Homo sapiens: one gene and its partners. The protein of the gene in region 3 purifies or fractionates together with the protein of the main gene of each other region. This does not show direct contact. Each region holds a gene or a part of one and is shown on either strand. Other genes may lie near its edges.

Region 1 (3,651 bases), on a different chromosome or scaffold from region 3:
TTTGCTGAATGAAAAAGTTTGTATTTGTTTCTTGTACGTATGCAAATTGGGAACCAAATGCTAATTTTGTAATTGATACTTGAAATCTGACAAGTTTCATAATACATTTTGTCTCTCTCTCCTGTCAGGTATCATGATATTAGCTGGTTTGACATCAAGTCATTTGTGAGTCATCAGATCTTCTCCTGAAAATGGGAGACACAGTAGGGCCCCTCCCAGGAGCTCTTGGCTGTTGCTGATGGCAGAAGCCAAGCTTGTCCAAGGTTCACTTGTAGCCCCTCAGCGTCAGCTCAGCTGGTGTCGTCCTGACCATGGACGGCGCGTCGGCCGAGCAAGATGGCCTCCAGGAGGACAGATCCCACAGTGGCCCCTCGTCTCTCCCCGAGGCCCCACTGAAGCCCCCGGGCCCACTGGTGCCACCTGACCAGCAGGACAAAGTCCAGTGTAAGTCGTGAGGTTCCTCTGTGTGCTGGTCACAGGAGGACCTGGTGTTGAGGGAGGACGTGGTGTTGAGGGAGGATGTGGCGTTGAGACCACTGTGAGCTTTTCACTTAATTCAAAGTTGTTTTTTTTTTTTTTTTTTTTTGAGACGGAGTCTCGCTCTTTCGCCCAGGCTGGACTGCAGTGGCGTGATCTCGGCTCGCTGCAAGCTCCGCCTCCCGGGTTCATGCCATTCTCTTGCCCCAGCCTCCTGAGTAGCTGGGATTACAGGCGCCCGCCACCGCGCCCGGCTAATTTTTTGTATTTTTAGTAGAGACGGGGTTTCACCGTGTTAGCCAAGATGGTCTCGATCTCCTGACTTCGTGATCCGCCCGCCTCAGCCTCAGCCTCAAAGTGCTGGGATTACAGGTGTGAGCCACTGTGCCCGGCCCAAAGTATGTTTTAGTAACTGAATGATGCCACCTTTAGATCAGGCACATTCCTGCTAAACAGAACTCCATTAAACGTGTGGGGCAGCAGCAGTGTTTCCCTGAAGGGATCTATGGGTCTTTATCATGTTCCCTGCCTAAAATTCTACCTTTTTTTTTTTTCGACGTGGAGTTTTGCTCTGGGTGCCCGGGCTGGAGTGCAATGGCGAGATCTCGTTTCACTGCAACCTCCACTTCCCGGGTTCAAGCAATTCTTCTGCCTCAGCCTCCCGAGTAGCTGGGATTACAGGCATGCGCTACCACGCCCAGCTATTTTTTGTATTTTTAGTAGAGATGAGGTTTCTCCATGTTGGTCAGGCTGGCCACGAACTCCCAACCTCAGGTGATCCGCCCACCTTGGCATCCCAAAGTGCTGAGATTACAGGCGTGAGCCACTGCGCCCAGCCATTTTTTTTTTTTTTTTTTTTTTTTGAGACGGTGTCCTGTTCTGTCGCCCAGGCTGGAGTGCAGTGGCACCATCTCAGCTCACTGCAACCTCTGCCTCCTGGGTTCAAGCGATTCTCCTGCTTCAGCCTCCCGAGTAGCTGGGACTACAGGCACCTGCCACCACACCCAGCTATTTTTTGTATTTTTAGTAGAGACGGGGTTTCACCATGTTGGCCAGGCTGGTCTCGAACTCCTGATCTCAAATGATCCACCCACCTCAGCCCCAAAAAGTGCTGGGATTACAGGAGTGAGCCACTGTGCCTGGCCGAATTCTGCCTTTTTGATTGGTCAGTTGCTGAATTTGTAATAGCTAGAATTCAGAAGTCGTCCCGTAGAGATCTAAGGATTACGGAGCACAGTGTTATGTTAGCCCCCTGGGTTATTCACGTGTCAGAGGGAAAGGGTGACTTAGTTATTCACTCAGTTCTCATGCCTCTTCCTGGCCAGGAGGTTCAGTGCTTTAAAACTGTAGACTACAGATGTGCTAATTTACTAGCAGAAGTCACAGTCTAATTCCTGTAAAATGATACTCAGGCGCTTAGGATGGCTTTGCTGGTCCTTGCTACATAAGCATCAGGTGAGGCAGATAACAACTTAGAGGCCCAAGATCAAGAGTTCTGAGACCCGCGGCCGTGGAACCTGCTCTTAGATCTGCTGCTCAGGAGCAATGTGCCCTCGAGCAAGACGCTGGGTTAATCTCAGCCTCCGCCCCTTTTTCTATTTTAAACATTTTATTACTGTTTTTAGAGTCAGGGTGTTGCTCCATTGAGCAGGCTGAAGTGCAGTGGTGTAATCATAGCTCACGGCAGCCATGAACTCCTGGGCTTAAGTGATCCTCCTGCCTTGGTCTCTGGGGTAGCGGTGACTATCGATGCGTGTCAGCACGCCTAGCTGATTTTTTTTTTTTTGAGACGGAGTTTTGCTGTTGTTGTCCAGGCTGTAGTGCAATGGTGCGATCTCGGCTCATGGCAACCTCCGCCTCCCGGGTTCAAGCGATCTTCTGCCTCAGCCTCCTGAGTAGCTGGGATTACAGGCATGTGCCACCACGCCCAGCTAATTTTGTATTTTTAGTAGAGATGGAGTTTCCATGTTGATCAGGCTGGTTTTGAACTCCCAATCTCTGGTGATCCCCCCACCTTGGCCTCCCAAAGTGCTGGGATTGCAGGCGTGAGCCACCGCGCCCTGTTGCCTGGCTCATTTTAAAAACTTTTTGTATAAACAGTCTTGCTGTTGCCCGGGCTGGTCTTGAATTCCTGGCCTTGAGTTATCCTTCCACCTCGGCCTCCCAAAGTGCTGGGATTACAGGTGTGAGCCACTGCGCCCGGCCTAACCCAGTAACTTTTATCTGAAATGCAAGGTTCCCCCTCTCCCAGCAGTGGAGCTCACGGGTCCTTTGCATGAAAGGCGTCTCAGTGCGTTGGTCGGGTGCCCGTGGTCTGGCTTCCTGTCTGGCACCCCTGCTTTTATTCTGGTTTTTCTTTCGGGAGGCATGACAGTAAGTATCTGCTGTTAGTTTGAACTCACATTTGCAAGTGAAAGAAACCTTTTCTTTTTTTGAGACGGAGTCTCGCTCTGTTGCCCAGACTGGAGTGCAGTGGCACGACCTCAGCTTACTGCAAGCTCCACTTCGAGGGTTCACGCCATTCTTCTGCCTCAGCCTCCCAAGTAGCTGGGACTATAGGCGCCCGCCACCACGCCCAGCTAAGTCTTTGTATTTTTAGTAGAGACGGGGTTTCGCCGTGTTAGCCAGGATAGTCTCGATCTCCTGACCTCGTGATCCACCTGCCTCAGCTTCCCAAAGTGCTGGGATTACAGGCGTGAGCCACCGCGCCCGGCTAAGAAACTCATTTTTAATTTGCTTGAGCAAAAAGCAAATTTGCTGTCCTGCATGCACGTGGGATCCGAGGAATGCTGACCCCTGTGAGACACGGAGGTGTTGCCGGGCCTCCAGAGCCACCGGAACCAGGACCAGAACCCCCTGAGGACCCTCCCTCCCCCCTCACATGTCTTGGTTCTTTGACTGTGAACTGGCCCACCCACCAGTCAGCAGTTAGGGGGCAGGGAAAAGACTGAAAATCACTTCATTGAAAGAAATCTTTCTTTGTTCCATTTGATGAGGAAATATGTTTTAGTTTGTGTTGTGGGTAATTTGTATATAATCATTTTAGTGGGTGAACTGAGGTAACACGTGGGTATAGAATTGTCACTGGTCCAACCCAGGCCTTTACCCAGCAGGCTGTCATCAAGCAGAAGCGCGGTTCTGGGCTGTCTCTGCTTCACGGGTGGTGTGATGACA
Region 2 (3,651 bases), on a different chromosome or scaffold from region 3:
CACCGTGTCCAGCACACAGAGGAAACAGATGGAAGATAAGGTAGAAAAGGAATGTGGGCCTCCCGTGGGGGGATCCATCCTCTCCTGCCAGCCAGTTGCCATGGAGTCACCCAGATCTTGCCTCCCAAGACAACCAAACTCAGACTCATCCTCCTCCCTTGAGCTACCAGGGCCAGGGCCTGAGGCCCTCCATTCACACTCCTCCTGCCTGCACATCACTCTTTGGACAGCACTCCAATCCCATCTCTCACACCTCCACTCCAGTCAATTCCACAGACAACTCCCAGCCCACACCACAGGCATTTCCTTCACCTCCTAACAGGCCACTCTGCACACGGAAACCAGGTGGTGCACGGCAAATACGCTCAGCATCCAATTCATTCCCAGTCCTGCCCCAGAACACCAAAGTCCCCTAGCACCGGGGGCAGCCCTAAGCCCTGGGTTGAAGGTTCCCTACACGGCCCTGTTTCTCACTTCACTGTCAGCTGCCCAAACCATGTGAGGACTTCCCATACTCTCAGCTGTGTCCTGCCTCATGGTACACTCTGTCCCATAAACAGTCAGGAAAATTGCTCTCCACCAAAACCTCATTCCAAGCCCAGCTGCACTGACCTCCATATTTCCACTCCTGATATGGTTTGGCTCTGTGTCCCCACCCAAATCTCATGTCAAATTGTAATCCCCACGTGTCAGGGGAGGGACCTGGTGGGATGTGACTGGATCATGAGGGCATATTTTCCCCTTGCCTTTCTCATAATAGTAAGTTCTCACGAGATCTGGTTGTTTAAAAGTGTTTGGCTCTTCCCCCTTCATTCTCTCCCTCTCTCCTGCTCCATCATGGGAAGATGTGCCTCGCTTCCCCTTCACCTTCCGCCAGGATTGTGTTTCCTGAGGCCTCCCAGTTATGCTTCCTGTTAAGCCTGAAGAACTGTGAGTTGGTTAAACCTCTTTTCTTCATAAATTACCCAGTCTCAGGTAGTTCTTTACAGCAGTATGGAAACGGATTAATACAACTCCCATCCTCACCTCCTCCCAACTGATAGTTAGCAACTCTCCGACCTCACCCTATTATCCCCCCTCAGCAACCCCATCATGTCCACTCTCCTTCAGAAGTCTTTCTCACTCCTATACCCCACCATCTCACATACACTCATCCCCACAAACACTCCATTCCCTCATTTGTCTAGTGACTCCTCCACCACTGCACAGCTACCCAGTAAGAGACCCAGTTCTCATGCCCCATTCCAATTCTCTGTCTTCGAACAGCACTGCCACCATAACCTAGAGATGCTGTCACCTAAACTGAATCCATGGCTTCATCCTGGTCCATACGACAGCCACCATAGTGTGGACATCTCCAACCTGAACTCCTCCATCAGGAGTCTCTGAGACATCTGTGGCTTGAACAAACACTGACTCCTCACACTCACTCTGAAAATTCCTAATACTGCTGACTTCTCCCATCTTAGCTGATGGAGCATCTATGCTTCCAAACAAAAACCATGGGGCCACTCCTGATTCCCCTTCTATCCCACCTCCCCAGCTGCCTCACTCTCTGTATCATAAAATGTGGGCAGCTCTAGTTAAAACTGAAGCTATGACCACTCTTGACAAGCCACCACCAACATCCACCTAGACTGCTGCAGGAACATCCTCTCAGATCTCCCTTCCATTACCCTCACCTCCACAGTCTGTCCTCCACTCAGAAGCCAAAGAAAGTCTCTTAAACTGGGGTCCTATCACTACCTATTTTGCTTCAAATCTTCCCCGTCTCCCACTTCCCTTAGATTACAGACCCAGGACCTAGGCTGTCATTCCAGGCCTGATGTTTGTGTGCCTCTAGCCACCTCCCATTCTGCTCCGTATTCCTACCAGATGTAACAGACATTTGCAGTTCCCTAAAAACCTAGCTCAGTCTCTCCTCCAAACATTGAAACATTCTGAATCCTGTGCCCAAGAGGCCCAAACATATCTTATCAGATCAATTCTCAAAAACGGGGACCAGTCTATGTAACCCAGCAGCCAACTTGTAATACTGAAACTAACTGGTGAAACCACTCACCCTTCAGACATAAGAGAAAGACAGGAAAAGAGGTTTTGTCACCTGCCAAAACCATCTGGGAGATAACCAGGGTGGGTGAATAGTAGGAAACACTCTACTCACCTGTGTAGGGTCCATTTCTGCCATCGCCAGGGGACCCTGAGGGAAGAGAAAGGCCGTGAGAAATTGACAGCCATGGAAGGATCCTTCAGGCTGAGATGGACCACCACCTCGTCTGCCCTGCCTGGGAGCAAACTGATCTCAATTCATTGAATAAAGTTCCTCAGGCCTCAGTGCTGCAGCTCTGTGACCATGGAAAAGAACCAAACCCACCTGAGCTTCAGTGTCTCCATCTGTAAATAGATTGCAAGAATAGCTGCCCCCTCACAGGGCTCATATTAGTATCAAACATCAGTAGCATGTACTATATATATCAGCGGCTATGGTCCAAGATTAATGGTTTTGTACATGAGTTCAATGCAAATGAAAGAGTGGGGTTTTGAAATTTTCATGTATGTTTTTAGCTTAAGATTTTAGAGGATGCGATATTAACTTTTTCCAAGGAAAGCAAACGAGATAAATTAACATCAAACCAATTATGAACCACTTTCTCCCCTCCCCTCCCCTGCCCTCCCCCCTCCCCTCCTCTGCCCTCCCCTCCCCTCCCCTCTCCTCTCCTCTATTGTGAGACAGAGTTTTGCTCTTCTTGCCCAGGCTGGAGTGCAATGGCGTGGTCTTGGCTCACTGCAACCTCCGCCTCCTGTTTTCAAGCAATTCGCCTGCCTCAGCCTCCTGAGAAGCTGGGATTACAGGCATGCGCCACCACACCCGGCTAATTTTGTATTTTTAGTAGAGACAGGGTTTCTCCATGTTGGTCAGGCTGGTCTCGAACTCCCGACCACAGGTGATCCACCCACCTCGGCCTCCCAAAGTGCTGGGATTACAGGTGTGAGCCACCACACCCGGCTCACTTTTAGAAATTTAACATAATGACTTCACTATTAACTGCCTATCTGTTTGCACACACTTAGAAAGATACTGTCTAATTGGGGTTTAAATCAATAAGTGTTTCATACATTATTAAGTTAATGAGTTATAGAGAAGGGAAGAGTAGGCAGGTCAGGTACTGGTCCTTTCTGCAACCAGGTCTACCTGCTACATAATCTTCTAAAGTGAGCTTGCCAGGAGACCTTGGCTGGAGCAGTAGATCATCCCCTGTAGCCCTGACATGTAGAGAAGGGGAAAAAGCAGTGCTCTGATCTGGAACCCAGCTACTCCACCAGCCTCAATAACATTTCTCTTGTTCAACAGAGAGTGGCCCTGAGGGTCAACCAAGCCTGCAGGTGCAGGATCGAAACCACCTCACACTTCAGCCTCCATCCCAGGCCATATGCTTACCCAGTCCAGGCCTCCCTTTTTACAGATGCAATCCAGAATCCCTGTTATGCCAGGTCTGCACCGTTCTGGACAGAGTATGATGTCTGTGGAGCCACCAATGGTCTGGCCCCCAAGTCTCAGCCCCCTGTTCTCTCAACACAGAGCCCACCTGAAATGACAACCTCAAGATTTCCCTCAAATTAAGTCCATCTGACTTCAAATTATACTACAAG
Region 3 (3,596 bases):
CATGCTAGCTCACGTGGCTGCCTTTGGCCTACTTGGTCATCAGTTTTCCTGGCAGTTAACAGAAACAATCATCTTGCCTCAGAGAATTGTAATGCAGGTGGCTTGAGTTACCAGATGAAGCTCTTGTCAGTGGAAAGCATGTACAAATGTTGTTACTATTGCCATTAATTTTGAGAATGACACATGCTTTTGTGATTATAACACCAAGAACATGTTCTTTATACAAAGTTTGGAAAATACAAGGAAAATATAACCCCATGATCCAGCAATAACTTCCATTAGTGTTTTTGGTATATTTTCTTCTACCATACCTCTCTATATTTTTAACTCCAAATTTACAATTGTGGCTGGGCAGGTGCAGTGGCTCACACCTGCAATCCCAGCACTTTGGGAGGACAAAGCAGGAGGATTGACTGAGTCCAGGAGTTGAGACCAGTCTGGGAAACATAGTGAGAATCCGTCTTTACAAAAAATAAGAAATTAGCCAGGCATAGTGGTGTGCACCTATAGAGCCAAAGAGGCTGAGGCAGAAGGATCACTTGAGCCCAGCAGTTCAAGGTTAGAGTAAGCCTTGATCATGCCACTGCAATCCAGCCTGGGTGAAAGAGAGACCCTGTCTCAAGAAAAATAATAATAAAAATAGGCCGGGTGCAGTGGCTCATTCCTGTAATCCCAGCACTTTGGGAGGCCAACGTGGGCGGATCACTTGAGCTCAGGAGTTCAAGACCAGCCTGGCCAACATGGTGAAACCCTGTCTCTACTAAAAATACAAAAATTAGCTGCGCGTGGTGGCAAGTCCCTGTAATCCCAGCTACTCGGGAGGCTGAGGTAGCAGAATTGCTTGAACCCAGGAGGCAGAGGTTGCAATGAGCTGAGCACTCCAGCCTAGGCAACAGAGCAAGACTCCCTCTCAAAAAATAATAATAATAAAACTGTGTCCTGGTTTTAAAAAATAATTTACATATAATTAGATGCACACATTTTAAGTTTGATCTCAATCAAAATACAGAACATTTCTAGAAAGTTTCTTCATACCTTCGTGTAGTCAGTTTCCCCTACTCTTGACCTCAAGTAATCACAGACCTGATTTCTACATCCTAATGTTATTAATTTCATAGTGTAGGCATTTCTACAGTATCACAAGAATATACCATATTTATCTATTTTGTCCTCTATATAGTTGTTTTTATAATGGTTATATAATATTTAGAATAAAATGATTTTAAATTATTTCTAAACATTCAAAAGAAAGACCTGAAGTGAAGGAAAAGACCCTAGAATCAAATGCTTTTCTGAGATTAACCTTCTTCCCTTTTGATGGAGCTGAGAGTCCTAATATTTAATATTTATACTATTATAAATAATGCTGCTATTAATGTCTATGTACAGAAATCTTTGTGTACATTTCAGACTATTTTCCTAGGAGACAGTCCTAGAAGTAGAATTAGTGAGTCAAAGGATGGGATATTTTTGAGGCTTTTGTTACATAAATCACTCCCAAGAAAATTGTTTCAGTTTACTCCCACCTCAGCAGTGTACTTGAATGCCCCTTTCACTCCCCTCTGCCAACACTGGGCATTTTTTCAAATTTTGCCATTGTGATAAGTGAAAAATAATATCCTTTTTAAATCTTGATTGTACTACTTTATTATCAGCATAGTTTAGGCCAGTATGTTAGATAAAGTTTGCGCTTGACAGACTAGCTTAGCACCCCTAAGCAAATTATGGGTACATGGATTTATACAAGGAACTTGATTTCAAAGTTCTGATGTGGAAGCACTGAATTTCCATTGTTAAATCTCAGCACTAAATAAATAAATAATTCTCAGCACTATCTGATACTCACAGGCCCGAATAATCAAGATATCAGTCTCCACTTACCTACTTTGAAATTAAAAGTAGGTATTTGTCCACTAGATACTTACTTTCATTCAGCCAGGAGGCCCAGTATAGTATTTTGGCTTACTGGTGATAAATAAGCTTTTGCAGCCTTGTTTTCCACCTTCTAGAACTCTCCTACTCAAGATGTGATCCACATTAGTATCACCTGGGAGCTTGCTAAACAAGTGGGGCCTCACCTCAGACCTACTGCATTAAAATCTATTTTTAGCAAGATCCCCAGGTGATTTGTAAGCATATTACAGTTTAAGGCTGGGCACAGTGGCTCACGCCTGTAATCCCAACACTTTGGGAGGCTGGGGTGGGTGGATCACCTGAGGTCAGGAGTTTGAGACCAGCCTGGCAAACATGGTGAAACCCCATCTCTACTAAAAATACAAAAATTAGCAGGGCGTGGTGGCATGTGCCTATAATCCCAGCTACTCAGGAGGCTGAAGCAGGAGAATTGCTTGAACCCAGGAGGTGGAGGTTGCAGTGAGCTGAGATCCCGCCATTGCACTTCAGCCAGCCTGGGCAACAAGAACAAAACTCTGCCTCAGAAAAAAAAAAAAAAAAAAAAAAAAGTTTAAGTATAGAAGATTGGCATCATTACAACCGGAGTTCCTCTTCTTTTACCTCCTTATTATTGCAGGTAATGGTAGTATATTGGGGAAGCTAGGTATAAGTGTCTTAGCCACAAATTCAGTTTCTACAAGTATTAATTGAGTTATTACTGTGTGCCTGACACCATTCTAGATGTTTTCACATACTACGTAGGGAGTGAAGGATGTACAAAACAAACTAAAATGGAGAATACGGTGTGAGACCCAATATCTATTGACTGCCTATGCTAAGTGAGGGTAGGTGTCTCATTGAATCCTCATAACAGGGCTAAGGGGCAGGGTTATTAGCTCTAATGAAAGTCAGAAAAATGAACCAACATGTGCAATATTTTTTTTTTTGAGACGGAGTCTCACTCTGTTGCCCAGGCTGGAGTGCAGTGGCACAATCTGTGCTCACTGCTACCTCCATCCCATCTCCTGGGTTCAAGCGATTCTCTGCCTCAGCCTCTCGAGCAGCTGGAATTACAGGTGCCCACCACCACACCCAGCTAATTGTCGTATTTTTAGGAGAGACGGGGTTTCACCATCTTGGCCAGGCTGGTCCTGAACTCCTGACCTTGTGATCCACCCGCCTCAGCCTCCCAAAGTGCTGGGATTACAGGCGTGAGCCACCGTGCCTGGCCCACGTGCAATATTAAGTGGCTGAATTTTAACTCATATCTGTTGCCAAACCCTGTATTCTTGCCACCATATCTCCTATCTCCAAGTAAGGCAATGGAGTGTGAAGTTGGGTGCCATGGGGCCCCCAGTTCTCAAGATGTCCATCTGAATACTTATATTCTGCTCAAAGACTAGCAGCTTGGAATCCTTTTCACCCCTGGCTACTGTGCCCTTTGTAGATGATCTTCTGCACAAAAACCAACAGCTGACCATGCAGGTGGCTTGCCTGAACCAGGAGCTTGCCCAGCTGAAAAAGCTGGAGAAGACAGTTGCCATTCTCCATGAAAGTCAGAGGTAGGAGAGGGTCTATCTAGCTTGCTTCTAGAAGCAGATATTTACTCCTTTTATCTCCTTTGTTTTGCTTGGAAAGTTAATATCTATGCACTTTGCAAGTGAACTCCATTCTGTGTGTAAACCTCCTGTATCTGGCCAGTT

The links.
Region 1: the proteins of LRRC36 (region 3) and GOLGA3 purify together in Homo sapiens (affinity purification with mass spectrometry; one large-scale study listed by BioGRID and IntAct). This does not show direct contact.
Region 2: the proteins of LRRC36 (region 3) and ZNF548 purify together in Homo sapiens (affinity purification with mass spectrometry; one large-scale study listed by BioGRID and IntAct). This does not show direct contact.

The regions. Positions count from the first base shown.
Region 1 is NC_000012.12:132,818,789-132,822,439, reverse strand, and holds part of GOLGA3 (golgin subfamily A member 3), read left to right. Parts: intron 1-128; 5' UTR 129-311; coding exon 312-444; intron 445-3,651. UniProt on the Homo sapiens protein: Golgi auto-antigen; probably involved in maintaining Golgi structure.
Region 2 is NC_000019.10:57,392,737-57,396,387, reverse strand, and holds part of ZNF548 (zinc finger protein 548), read right to left. Parts: intron 2,201-3,651; coding exon 2,165-2,200; intron 1-2,164. UniProt on the Homo sapiens protein: May be involved in transcriptional regulation.
Region 3 is NC_000016.10:67,378,793-67,382,388, forward strand, and holds part of LRRC36 (leucine-rich repeat-containing protein 36), read left to right. Parts: intron 1-2,634; coding exon of another isoform or gene 2,635-2,702; exon of another isoform or gene 2,703-2,738; intron 2,739-3,340; coding exon 3,341-3,455; intron 3,456-3,596.